Linked DNA regions of Homo sapiens. The protein of the gene in region 3 purifies or fractionates together with the protein of the main gene of each other region. This does not show direct contact. Each region holds a gene or a part of one and is shown on either strand. Other genes may lie near its edges. The genes, in order: PCMT1, INAVA and PYCR3.

The links.
Region 1: the proteins of PYCR3 (region 3) and PCMT1 purify together in Homo sapiens (affinity purification with mass spectrometry; 3 studies listed by BioGRID and IntAct, with this or other methods). This does not show direct contact.
Region 2: the proteins of PYCR3 (region 3) and INAVA purify together in Homo sapiens (co-immunoprecipitation; 2 studies listed by BioGRID and IntAct, with this or other methods). This does not show direct contact.

The regions. Positions count from the first base shown.
Region 1 is NC_000006.12:149,801,677-149,805,422, reverse strand, and holds part of PCMT1 (protein-L-isoaspartate(D-aspartate) O-methyltransferase), read right to left. Parts: intron 3,224-3,746; coding exon 3,044-3,223; 3' UTR 3,007-3,043; exon of another isoform or gene 2,892-3,006; intron 2,299-2,891; exon of another isoform or gene 1,630-2,298; intron 121-1,629; exon of another isoform or gene 84-120; intron 1-83. UniProt on the Homo sapiens protein: Initiates the repair of damaged proteins by catalyzing methyl esterification of L-isoaspartyl and D-aspartyl residues produced by spontaneous isomerization and racemization of L-aspartyl and L-asparaginyl residues in aging peptides and proteins.
Region 2 is NC_000001.11:200,911,839-200,915,584, reverse strand, and holds part of INAVA (innate immunity activator protein), read right to left. Parts: coding exon 3,448-3,746; intron 2,049-3,447; coding exon 1,956-2,048; 3' UTR 1-1,955. UniProt on the Homo sapiens protein: Expressed in peripheral macrophages and intestinal myeloid-derived cells, is required for optimal PRR (pattern recognition receptor)-induced signaling, cytokine secretion, and bacterial clearance.
Region 3 is NC_000008.11:143,602,976-143,606,721, forward strand, and holds the end of PYCR3 (pyrroline-5-carboxylate reductase 3), read right to left. Parts: intron 3,705-3,746; coding exon 3,492-3,704; intron 3,180-3,491; coding exon 3,087-3,179; intron 2,908-3,086; coding exon 2,725-2,907; 3' UTR 235-2,724; downstream 1-234.

The DNA.
Region 1 (3,746 bases), on a different chromosome or scaffold from region 3:
ACGGGGTTTCGCCATGTTACCCAGGATGGTCTCGATCTCCTGACCTTGTGATCTGCCCGCCTTGGCCTCCCAAAGTGCTGGGATTACAGGCGTGAGCCACTGCGCCCAGCCTAAAAGCAGGTATACATTTAATGTTTAGCAGATGACTAATTGTCCATAAATTTAAAAATTATTCTAAATATATTTTTTAAAGATAAGGTCTTGCTCTGTTGCCCAGCCTGGAATGCTGTGGTGATCACAGCTCACTGCCGCTTCTGGGCTTAAGTGATCCTCTTATCTCAGCCTCCCAAGTAGCCAGAACTAGAGGTGCACACCACTACGCCTGGCTAGTTCTTAAATTTTTAGTAGATACGAGGTCTCACTATGTTTCCCAGGCTTCTCTTGAACTTCTGGCCTCAAGTGATCCTCCCACCTCAACCTCCCAAAGCATTGGGATTACAGGCATAAGCCACCATACCTGGCCCTATTTTAAATTTCTTAATACAAATAGTTTGGTTTTATCAAAGGTGGATTCAGGTTTTGTGGGGGCCTAAGGTTTATATAATTAGAAAACAGGGGAACCTTTTTATGAAGTTAAAAAAAAAATCAGTAAGACTATGCATAATATAAAATTAAGAACAGGGCCAGGCATGGTGGCTGACACCTGTAATCCTAGCACTTTGGGAGGCCGAGGCGGGCAGATCACCTGAGGTCAGGAGTTCGAGACCAGCCTGGCCAACATGGTGAAACCCCTTCTCTACTAAAAATACAAAATTTAGCTGGGCGCCTATACTCTCAGCTACTTGGGAAGCTGAGGCAGGAGAATTGCTTGAACCTGGGAGACGGAGGTTGTAGTGAGCTGAGATTGCACCACTGCTCTACACAGCCTGGGTAACAGAGCAGGACTCCGTCTCAAAAAAAACACTTTTTTAAATTAAATTAAATTAAGAACAGGGTCAGAGAAAACCTAGACAAGCAAGGGCTCTGCAGCTTCAGCTTTGTTAGCTTCACAGTAAATCTACCTCTAGTCATAAAAACAAAATTCCCTTTTTATAATTCCTTCATAATTATAAATTATAAATTATAGGCAAGATGTTCAACACTAATATTTATTGTATATAAAAAGAAAAATTTCTAAGTTGCTAATGAAAATCAACTCTTCTTATCAAATTTCAGTAATTTCAGTAACATATTTGCCCCTTTTATACTACAATAATCTCACAATTATGTAATTGTATAAACCATACTAGAAGCAAAGTGAAGGAAGGTTTTAGTTAGTTGTTAATAACTACATCTGATTCCAGTTGAAAAAACCAGTAATTTTTTAAATGCCTTTTTAATTTTTTTTTTTTTTTTTTTTTTTGAGACAGAGTCTCGCTCTGTCACCCAGGCTAGAAGGCAGTAGTGTGATCTCGACTCACTGCAACCTCTGCCTCCTGGGTTCAAACAATTCTCCTGCCTCAGCCTCCTGAGTGCCTGGGACTACAGATGCAAGCCAACATGCCCAGCTAATTTTTGTGTTTTTAGTAGAGACAGGGTTTCACCATGTTGGCCAGGCTGGTCTCAAACTCCTGACTTAAGATGATTGGCTCACCTCAGCCTCCCAAAATGCCTGGACTAAAATGCTTTTTTTTTTTTTTTTTTTTCCAGTGGCTGTGCTCCACGTATAATTCACAGAAAATAGCTATTGGTGAAGAATAAAAACAACATTGAGAGATCTATTAAACTTATTATCACCCCTTTTACTTATTAAGAAACTAATTATTTTAAAATAAGAATCTTTATGTCAAATAAAAATAAGATGCTAAGACAAGGAAACTGTAAAGCCGTTCTTGTTTTGGCATTTAATTTCAAGTAATTTGAGCTAATGGCACTGTTATGTACTGATGTCACTCTCTCTCATGGAAGGGAGTGGGAAGGGGAGGAAAAGAGAAATCTTGGCTTCAAACAAAATATTCAGATTATGCTGAGACATAAAACAAAAGTGGACATTCTTTATAAACCATGCTGTGCTGAAAGTTGCTGCATGCTGCTGACCCTCTGGGTGGGTTTGTGAGACCTGGGCACTCATTGGGTAACTTGTAGAATCCTTGCCTCTTCCTAGGAATTTAGCCAGAATAGCTTAAACAGTGGCTGGCCTATTCTATAGAATGGGGAGAAGGTGACTCTTAAACAAGGCTGAATGAAAAATAGGCATGGGCTGTCAGGTATCTATGATTTGGTTGAAACAGATAAACCAAGCTGAGAGGTAGAATGTCCTCTCTGGTATTCTGACATTTTAGAAAACTGAGACGACCGTTATCTTTCCCCTTCTTTCTCCTTGTTGGTACAATAAACAGGGCAGGAAATGATGGCCCCTTGTTTTTTTTTTTTTTTTTTTTTTTTTTTTTTGAGACAGAGCCTTGCTCTGTCTCCCAGGCTGGAGTGCAGTGTCAAAATCTCGGCCCACTGCAACCTCCGCCTCCAGGGTTTAAGCAATTCTCCTGGCTCAGCCTCCCGAGTAGCTGGGATTACAGGCCTGTGCCATCACGCCCAGCTGATTTTGTATTTTTAATAGAGACGGGGTTTCACCATGTTGGCCAGGCTAGTCTCAAACTCCTGACCTCAAGTGATCCGCCCACCTAGGCCTCCCAAAGTGCTGGGATTACAGGCATGAGCCACTCCGCCTGGCCTCTTTTACAGACCAAACTCATTGTTTCCATGCCCATCCAGTGCTATAAAAATAATTTAAAAACATAAAAACAGAGTGGCTGATAATGAAGAAAAAATCCTTACAAAGTACTGAATTGAAGCTGAAAGTCTCTCTAAAAAAAAAACAAACAAACAAACAAAAAAAGCCTTTGTGCCAACCAAGTCTCACCCTCCCTTTCCCAAAGATATATATGTTAAACCAAAATAAGGGCAGACCATGCAACATTTTTCACATTTTTAATGTAATGAATTTCTGACGTTATAATGGAGGAGCATAAAGGTGACAACCAAAAACAGCTCTTGTAGTCTAATGTCTTAAAATCCACACCCTTTCACCTTGCATGTGTGGAAGAAGAAAGAGCAGAAGATAAAATCACTTCCACCTGGACCACTGCTTTTCTTTATCTGTTAAAGGCACGTATATCACCCCCATCAGAGGCTTCATTTTGATGCTGCCATCTTGTAGCTTGTCATACTGCTCCAACATTTGGTTTCCGCCTGCAGGACCAACAGGCAATATCAATCTTCCTCCGGGCTTTAACTGATCTATTAGCTAAAAGAAAAAAAAAAAAGCACATACATCACCAAGTTACAGATTTTATTTTATTTTATTTATTTATTTTTGAGACAGGGTCTCACTCTGTCGCCCAGGCTGGAGTGCAATGACACGATCTCAGCTCACTGCAACCTCTGCCTCCCAGGTTCAAGTGATTCTCCTGCCTCAGTCTCCCAAGTAGCTGGGACTACAGGCACACGCCACCATGCCCAGCTAATTTTTGTATTTTTAGTAGAGACAAGGTTTCACCATATTGGCCACACTGGTCTCGAACTCCTAACCTCAAGTACTCCACCCACCTCGGCTTCCCAAAGTGCTTGGATTACAGGCGTGAGCTACTGTGCCCGGCCCAGATTTTATATTAATAGTCATTTGACATCATTATAAACAACTTTTAGTGTCCATAGGCAGAAAGCAGAAACGTTCTTTATTTAGTATATACAAATTAAGGCCAGACACGGTGGCTCACGCCTGTGATCCCAGCACTTTGGGAGGCCAAGGTGGGCAGATCACTTGAGGT
Region 2 (3,746 bases), on a different chromosome or scaffold from region 3:
GGCCAGTGCTCAGCCGTCTCCTGGCTCAGAACAAGGCACTCTGGGCTCCAGTTAGGACACTGAGAGGCCAGGGAAACCAACATGCCCTGGAGAAAGGGGCTTAGAGACAAACCGGAAAAGCACAGCATCCAAGCAGGGTATTCACGCATGGGGGGCAGAGTAGGCCCAAAAGTTGGGGGTTGCTGATGCGGTAAGAGCACAGTGAGAGAAATGCCAGGTGCATCCCTTCAGCCTCCTGCATCCTCCCCCAGGTTCCTTTGATGGGCCATCCTGGGTCTTCCCTTGGCACCCTTGTGCAATCGGCTACATCGTTTTCTTTCCAGTAGAGAGAACTGTGCCTCTTCTAGGTCAGACACCAGAGTTCTTGGAACCTTCTGCTATATTCACAGTCTGTTCCAGTCCAGGTAACATGGGGGCAGAGAGTTCTGCACAGGTGAAGTCAGAACTCAGCTCTCCCTACCTCTCCTAGCCTCAATTCAGTTGCTTTCTCATTGAAGCAGGTCCCCTGACCTGGAAGCAAAGAAGGCCCTAGGATGAGAACCCAGGGACAGCTGGGTGGTCTTAGCACAGGCAGCTTCCAGACTTGCTCCAGTCGCTGCAGCTGGGACAATTAATGAATGCCCCCAAAGAAAATTCAGCATCTCATCAGCCCTTGGGAGTGAGTATGTCCATGTTTGTATAAATAACCACCTTCTCAGAGCAGAAGCATAGCTGGTGGGGGGAGTAGGAACTGTGACTCCCTCTCCCAACCAGAACATGCCACAAAAGTGGTGCCTTTCCAAAACCACTTGTAAAGTATTGGTTTTTGGGACTATGATGAAAAAACGTTAGAAGGGCCAGGTGCGGTGGCTCATGCCTGTAATCCCAGCACTTTGAAAGGCCAAGGCAGGTGGATCACTTGAGGTCAGGAGTTCGAGACCAGCCTGGCCAACATGATGAAACCCCATCTCTACTAAAAATAAAAAATTAGCAGGCATGGTGGTGCTTGCCTGTAATCCCAGCTACTCGGAAGGCTGAGGCAGGAGATTCGCTTGAACCCGGGAGACGGGGGTTGCAGTGAGCCGAAATCTTGCTACAGCATTCCAGCCTGGGCGACAGAGCGAGACTCCATCTCAAAAACAAACAAAATGTTAGAAGGAGCAGTGGGGCTGCAAGCCCTTGAGATGCCCAGAGGTAGCTGTCAAAGGGTGGCTGCTGTCCACTAACCACAAGCATGGACCAGCCCCCAGCCAGACCCCCTGAGGCTACAAACTGTGATGCCACTGACTCAAAGCTCAGGGGTCTGGGAGCCCACAGGGCATAGACAGGGTATAGTGACTGGGTCCCTAAAGAGGATTTAGGGGGTCAGGAAAATAGCAGGGTCTAGCAAGACAATACACCACCGGGATATACTGACCTTTGACCTACCACTTGGTGTGTGCATCACAGAGCACATTAGAAAAGGGGGAAGAGATTCTCCCCCAGCCCAGGCTGGGGTACCCAGAGACCTGGGAAATGGGGGAGAGTCATGTGCATGAGTATGTACCATGTCCAGCCTCCAGCAATAGTGGGACAGGAGGGCCAGGGGCAGTTCCCCAGGGAATTTCTTAGAACCAGAGCACAGAGCGTTGGAGAACTCCCAAGGTGGCTCACTCTGCTTCACTCGTCCCCTGCCACTTGTCTTATATAAGGAGATAGAGGCTGTCAGTCAGACAGGCAAGGCCTTAAGTCCAGTAGGCCAAACTCTGGGGGATAAAACATAATCATATCACAGGGGTATTGAGGACAATCCACATATATAAATCCTTAGGTCAGGGCTTCTGAAAAAAGTCGTGTAAAAAAAAAATAATAAAAGGTCTCAGCTCCAGGTCATCGGCCTGCGATGGGGATGGGGGAGCTGAAAGAGGCACTCAGGGGTGGGGGGGTCTCAGCCCAGCCCCTCTATGAAACAGTTTTTTCCAGCGTGGGGCGCAGAGTTACACCTGGCTGATGATCTCTCCTTTTTCAGGTACAAAGACTTGCACAGGGGCCCCATCAGGCGATCTCCGCAGCACACAAACTGTGGGCACCTGCCAGGGTCAGGAAGAAAGGACAGGTGGGTAAATGAACCAGGCAGAAAAGCGGGGACAGCAGGCACAGTTACACCATCCTTATCCCTTAGGGACACTGACCAGCAGAAGCAGCAGCAGCAGCAGGCCCTGGCACTCAGCCCCTTCCTCCCAGGATGCTCTCTGTTCTTCAGGGACCCCCTTTACACATTTTCCTCCATGTTCTTTTGGGGTGTGACAGGCGCCCTGACCTCCTCCTCCCCCACCTTTCCTGGGCTCACTTCTCATCACCCTCCCTGTCTGGCACGTTGGGATGGGCTGGGTCTATCCAGCCAAGGACAGGCCCAAGCGCGCAGAAAGGGAAAAGCACGTCAGCTGGAGGGCGCGGCCTCGGACCGGGGCCAGGGTGCTGCCAGGCCCAGGATGCCAGCTGCAGTCCAAAGAACCGTGGGTGGGGGAGGGACACGCAGCTGGGTCTGCTGGGAATCTGGGGTCTCAAAGAAGCAGCTTGTTGGTAACTTCTGGAGCACATCACCTGCAGAGCCCTCCGTACCAGGGAGAAAGAATAAAGAAAGGATTCCTGTGTGTGGCTCCCCACTTCCAGAATGAAGAAATAGGGGCCAAGGAAACCAAGGCTGCCACCCTACCCAGTGTCAGGGTGCTCTATCCTATATACTACCCTCCAGCCTGCTCCCTGGCCTCTGTGGCCCCAGATGATAATAATATCACATATCTAGCGCTTACCATGCATTGCTCTAATCATTTCAGCCTCTTGGCAGCCCTATGAGATAGGTACTCTACTACTCTCATTTCACAGGGGAGGAAACACTAGGTCCAAAGGGGTTAAGTAACTTGCCCAATCATACAGCTCGTAAGTGGCAGAACTGGGATTTGAACCTGGTGGTCTAGCTTGAGGGTGGGTGCTCTTAACTCTGATGCCACCCTTCTTCTCGGCTTGGTGGTGAGGAGGGGTGTCAGGGAGGATGCTGATGCCCAGAAAATCACAGGTTCTGGCTTCTGCAACTCATTTCCTACTCTCCCTTTGTCCTAGACCTTCAAATGGAAATCTGAGGGGCTGATTTGGACTGGACTTTTGATTATGAAGAGGCTTATCTGCTTTGTGCATCATCATTTAGGGAGAGAAAAAGTCTCAGCTATCTTCGGGGATCATCTCCACCAGTGTATATGCTCTTGAGCTAGACATGGCAGGCAAAATTAGGAGGTGCCCCAGGGAAGCCAAGAGTGCCTTCCAAAGCCAAGAGGAAATGATTTTTTGGCCTGTTCTTCCTAGACGGGGATTACCCGGCCACTAGGTTGCTGCTTTGATGCCTCTGTACCCTTGGACATACTAGAATTGCAGCCCCTCCCCAACAAAACAGCCCTCCTGCCTGGCCCCGGGGTCCCTCCAGAGCAGCCGTACCTGTGCCCGGGGTCCCAGGGCTCGTCCGAAGCCCTCTCTCCCAAGGGGCAGGCTCCTGACCCGGAAAGCTCCTTGGCGGTCCAGTGAGTGGGGGCGGGTGCTCCGGAGGCGTGCACGCTCGTGCCACCACTTGAGCTCCTCGGACACGGCGGCCTTGCTGAGCCCCCGGCCTGCCGGGCTGTCCTTCAGGGAGGGCGTCCGCACGATGCGGCTGCGGGAGGGCACCAGACGCTGGTAGCGCAGGGGAGTGCCCTCCTCCTCGTAAGCAGGGCCCGGGGCTGCGCGGCGCAGCTCCCACT
Region 3 (3,746 bases):
GTGGTAGGAAAGGAAGGGGAGCACCCCCAGACGGGGGGGTCCTGCAGAGACCCCAACCCCTTACCTACCTAGTTGAGACACCCATGGGGAGCAGCCCCAACAGCATGTCGGAGTCCCTAGGCTTGTGGGGTCATGCTCTGTTGAGGGCCCTTCCTCTAACTGGCGAGCTTGTTTACAGCTGAGCTCGCCTGGTCAGATGGGCCCAGTGGCTTTATCTAATAAAGGCTGGACATGTCCACTTCATGAGCATCCCTGTTTTGAAGTCTTATTTTTAAACTCTTGATCCAACGCTTGGATCAGGAATACCCCCTAGATTAACAGTTGGGGCATAGGGCATAAAAGTGGAACATTGATCAAAGATACCGTAATCATATCCATCGTTTTCTGTCTTGAAGAACAGTTTTCACCTGGAAGTAGAAGGCACAGGGGAGGCCTGGCTCACCACAACGCTCCCTGCCGTGCCGAGAACTGAGCCCGTGTCTTTGTCACAGGCCCTCACCAGCTGGGCCAGGAGTGGCTGGCTTGGGATCTCCACCTCCCGAGCTGAGCTCACCTAGTGCCCAGGGCTTGTCAGAGGTCCCAGGGGGAGACAGGTGTTGGTGCAAAGTCAATGATTTCTCCTTGCAGATGGGCTTGGTGTGAATGCAGGTGGCCGTCAGAAGGGCTGTCCACCTTCCTTCAGGGGGCCGCCTGCACCAGACCCCAGGCTCCCAGGCCTGCCCAGGCTTGGCATACAGTCCCCTGGGGTGACAGCGTGCAGGGGAAACTGCAATTCCATGCCCTACAAAGCCCCCAGGTGATGTAGAGGCCTGTAGCAGGCATGGGGAGACCTCTGCTGTCCACAGTGCCAGCACCCCCTTCGGCTGACACCTGTGCTTGACCAAGGTTCCAGGCCTCAACTTATGGGGCAGGCATTGGACCTTCTTTTTTTTTTTTTCCAAGACAGAGTCTTGCTGTCACCCAGGCTGGAGTGCAGTGGCATGATCTTGGCTCTCTGCAATCTCCGCCTCCTGGATTCAAGCAATTCTCCTGCCTCAGCCTCCCAAGTAGCTGGGATTACAGGCACGCACCACCACATCCAGCTAATTTTGTATTTTTAGTAGAGATGGGGTTTCTCCATGTTGGTCAGGTTGGTCTCAAACTCCTGACTTTGTGATCTGCCCGCCTCGGCCTCCCAAAGTGCTGGAATTACAGATGTGAGCCACTGGGCCCAGCCCAGAACTTGGTTTTATCCACCTCTGGTGAAACATGAGCTCACTTGGTGCTCTCTGGCCTCTTTATTCCCATCTCCTTAGGCTGACCCTGACAAGTGCCAGGGCCAGGCTTGGACCAAGCAGTCAACTGAGTCAGCCTGCCCTGGGAACCAGGCAGGGGAGGGAGCTTACGGACGGGCTAGGCTCAGGAGAGTAAGAGAGAGCAGATGAAGGGCAGAAGTCCGTGGCCGCAGAGGCAGCTGAGCATGAGGGATGGAGCGTGCTGCTGTCCTGCAGGTGCCGTTAGCCCTGTTTTGCACTGGTGGATTGATCTGCTCAGGCGCACAGGGAGATGGCACAGCAGGACCCGCCGCCCAGCCTCGCTGAGGGCATGCTCCCGCCTCACCTCCAGAGGCTGTTGGGCGGAAGCCGAGAGCTGCAGCAGTTGGGGCCAGCGTGGGACTGGAGGCCCAGGTGAATCTTGTGGGGCAGGGGACGGAGCTGAGGCTGTCCGGCCCGGGCCCTCCCCACCCAAAGGCCCTAGAACCCTAGCCTTCAATCCTGGGGGTTTGCTTCTCCCCTGAGTCCTGGCTTTCCTGACCTGCCGTCCGTTAGGGACAGGTGGAGGGGCCAAGTCTTGCCATCAGAGGCCAGTGTGGTGGTGCCAGAGCTACGGGGTATTCCAGGACCCCTGACCTAGGCACGGGGCAGGAGGGCCCAGAGCCACCTGGCCACTTGTCAGGAGCTTAGGATTGGGAGGAAAGAGGGAGCCTGTATCCAGACTAAAGCCAGGGGTCTGCATGTGTCCTGGCTGGCCAGGGCCACCCTCCCAGACCTCAAGCCACCCCACCTACCACTGCCCACCTGGTGCCACCCCAGCACTGCCGCAGACCTGGCCCAGCAGCTCCTGCTCCTTAGCAGGGGATGAGCACGCCCACCACAGCCACCCTCTTCTCCAGGCTGCAGGGCAGGCTCCAGCTCCCCATGGGGGCCCCATCAGGCCAGGGCCCCTGGCTTTACTGCAGGGGAGAGGGTCTCTTGTGCAGACCCCATATGGCTCGTGCCCCCTAGAGCTGAGATGAGGCAGCCGGCCTGGCTGTAGCTGCACGGAGCCACCTGGAAAGCCAAAGGCAAGCTCCAGCTCCAGACCAGGCATTGGGCCAGCCGTGCCTGTTACCGTAAGTTCTGTTCATGGCCTCAACCAACTGCCCAACCATGCGGGCAAATGACCAAGACGCCATCTCTTGGGCCCCTCAGAACCAATGTTGCAGCAAGGTGGGCTCACTGCAGCAAGGGGCAGAGCCACCACCACGGTGCCTTCTGCTCACTGGGGAGGGAGGAGTGTCCCCACTGGTCGGGGCTCCCCCGCCTGCTGGAACCTCCCAAGTCCTGCCCCCTGCATTTCCCTGTGCAAGGGGAGAAGGAGCAGTAGGAGACCCTCATGCAGGAGGGAGGGAGCCGCAGTCCTCAGGGGAAGGGACACAGGGAGAGGCAGGGGCACAGAGGCAGGAAAGGATGGCCAGAGCCCAGCCTACTTTCTGCTGAGCTCCTTGGCCCGGCAGGTGGCAGCCTCCACGGCGCTCATGGTGGCTGCTCGCAGCCCGCCCTGCTCCAGGGCGTGGAGTCCATAGATGGTGGTGCCACCCGGGGTGCACACGTCTGAGCGCAGCTGGGCTGGGTGTTGGCCCTCGTGCAGCAGCATCTTGGCCGTCCCCTGAGGAGAGCGTTAGGGCCTGGTGACGGGGGGAGGTGGTGCGGTCCCCACTGTGCGGCCTGCCCTCGTTGCATCCCCCAACCTTGGCCCCAGCTTCTCGAGCCTGCTGTTTCCCTGCGCACTGGAAGAGGTACAGGCCTGGGCCTTCCCGATGTTCCCCAGGGGCCACCCTCACTCACCAGCAGGGTCTGGGCAGCGATGCGGTGGGCCAGGCTGCTGGGCATGCCCATCTTGACGGCTCCTTCAGCCAGGGCCTCGGAGAATGCACACACCTGTAGCCGCGGCATGGTGGTTGGGGGGGATAGGTGTCAAAGCCTGGGGGCTCAGGACCTTCAGGAACAATGCCCAGAGCAGTAGCCGTGGGTGGCCAGAACCAAGGCCTGAGCCCAACGGTCTGCAAAGGGGCTGGCCTCAAAGATCCCCAAGGCAGTGAAGTCCCGGGGACAAGCAGAGCTCCCAGTGGGCCTGGGGAGCAACCACGCAGGCCTCAAGGTTGGACTCTGAGGGCAGAGGCTGTCAGAGGGACTGGGGTGGGCCCCCTCTTTGCCGAGGGTGGGGCCGGGGATGGACGAGGCAATACTCACGAAGGCCACGCCACTGCCACTGAGGCCAGTGTGGATGTCGACGTAGGCTTCAGGCACCTCCTCACACCGCCCACAGGCCTCCAGCAGATGCTGCAGGAGCTTGGTCTCGCTGCTCCCCACGTGGCGGCCCCGCGCCATCACTATGGCCCCTTCCTGGACCACACAGGGCAGGTTGGGCAAGACCCGCAGCACCCGTGTGTTTGGGGGCAGCAGCTGGCCAGAGAGAGGTCAGAATCAGGGAGTCTGTAGGACTGG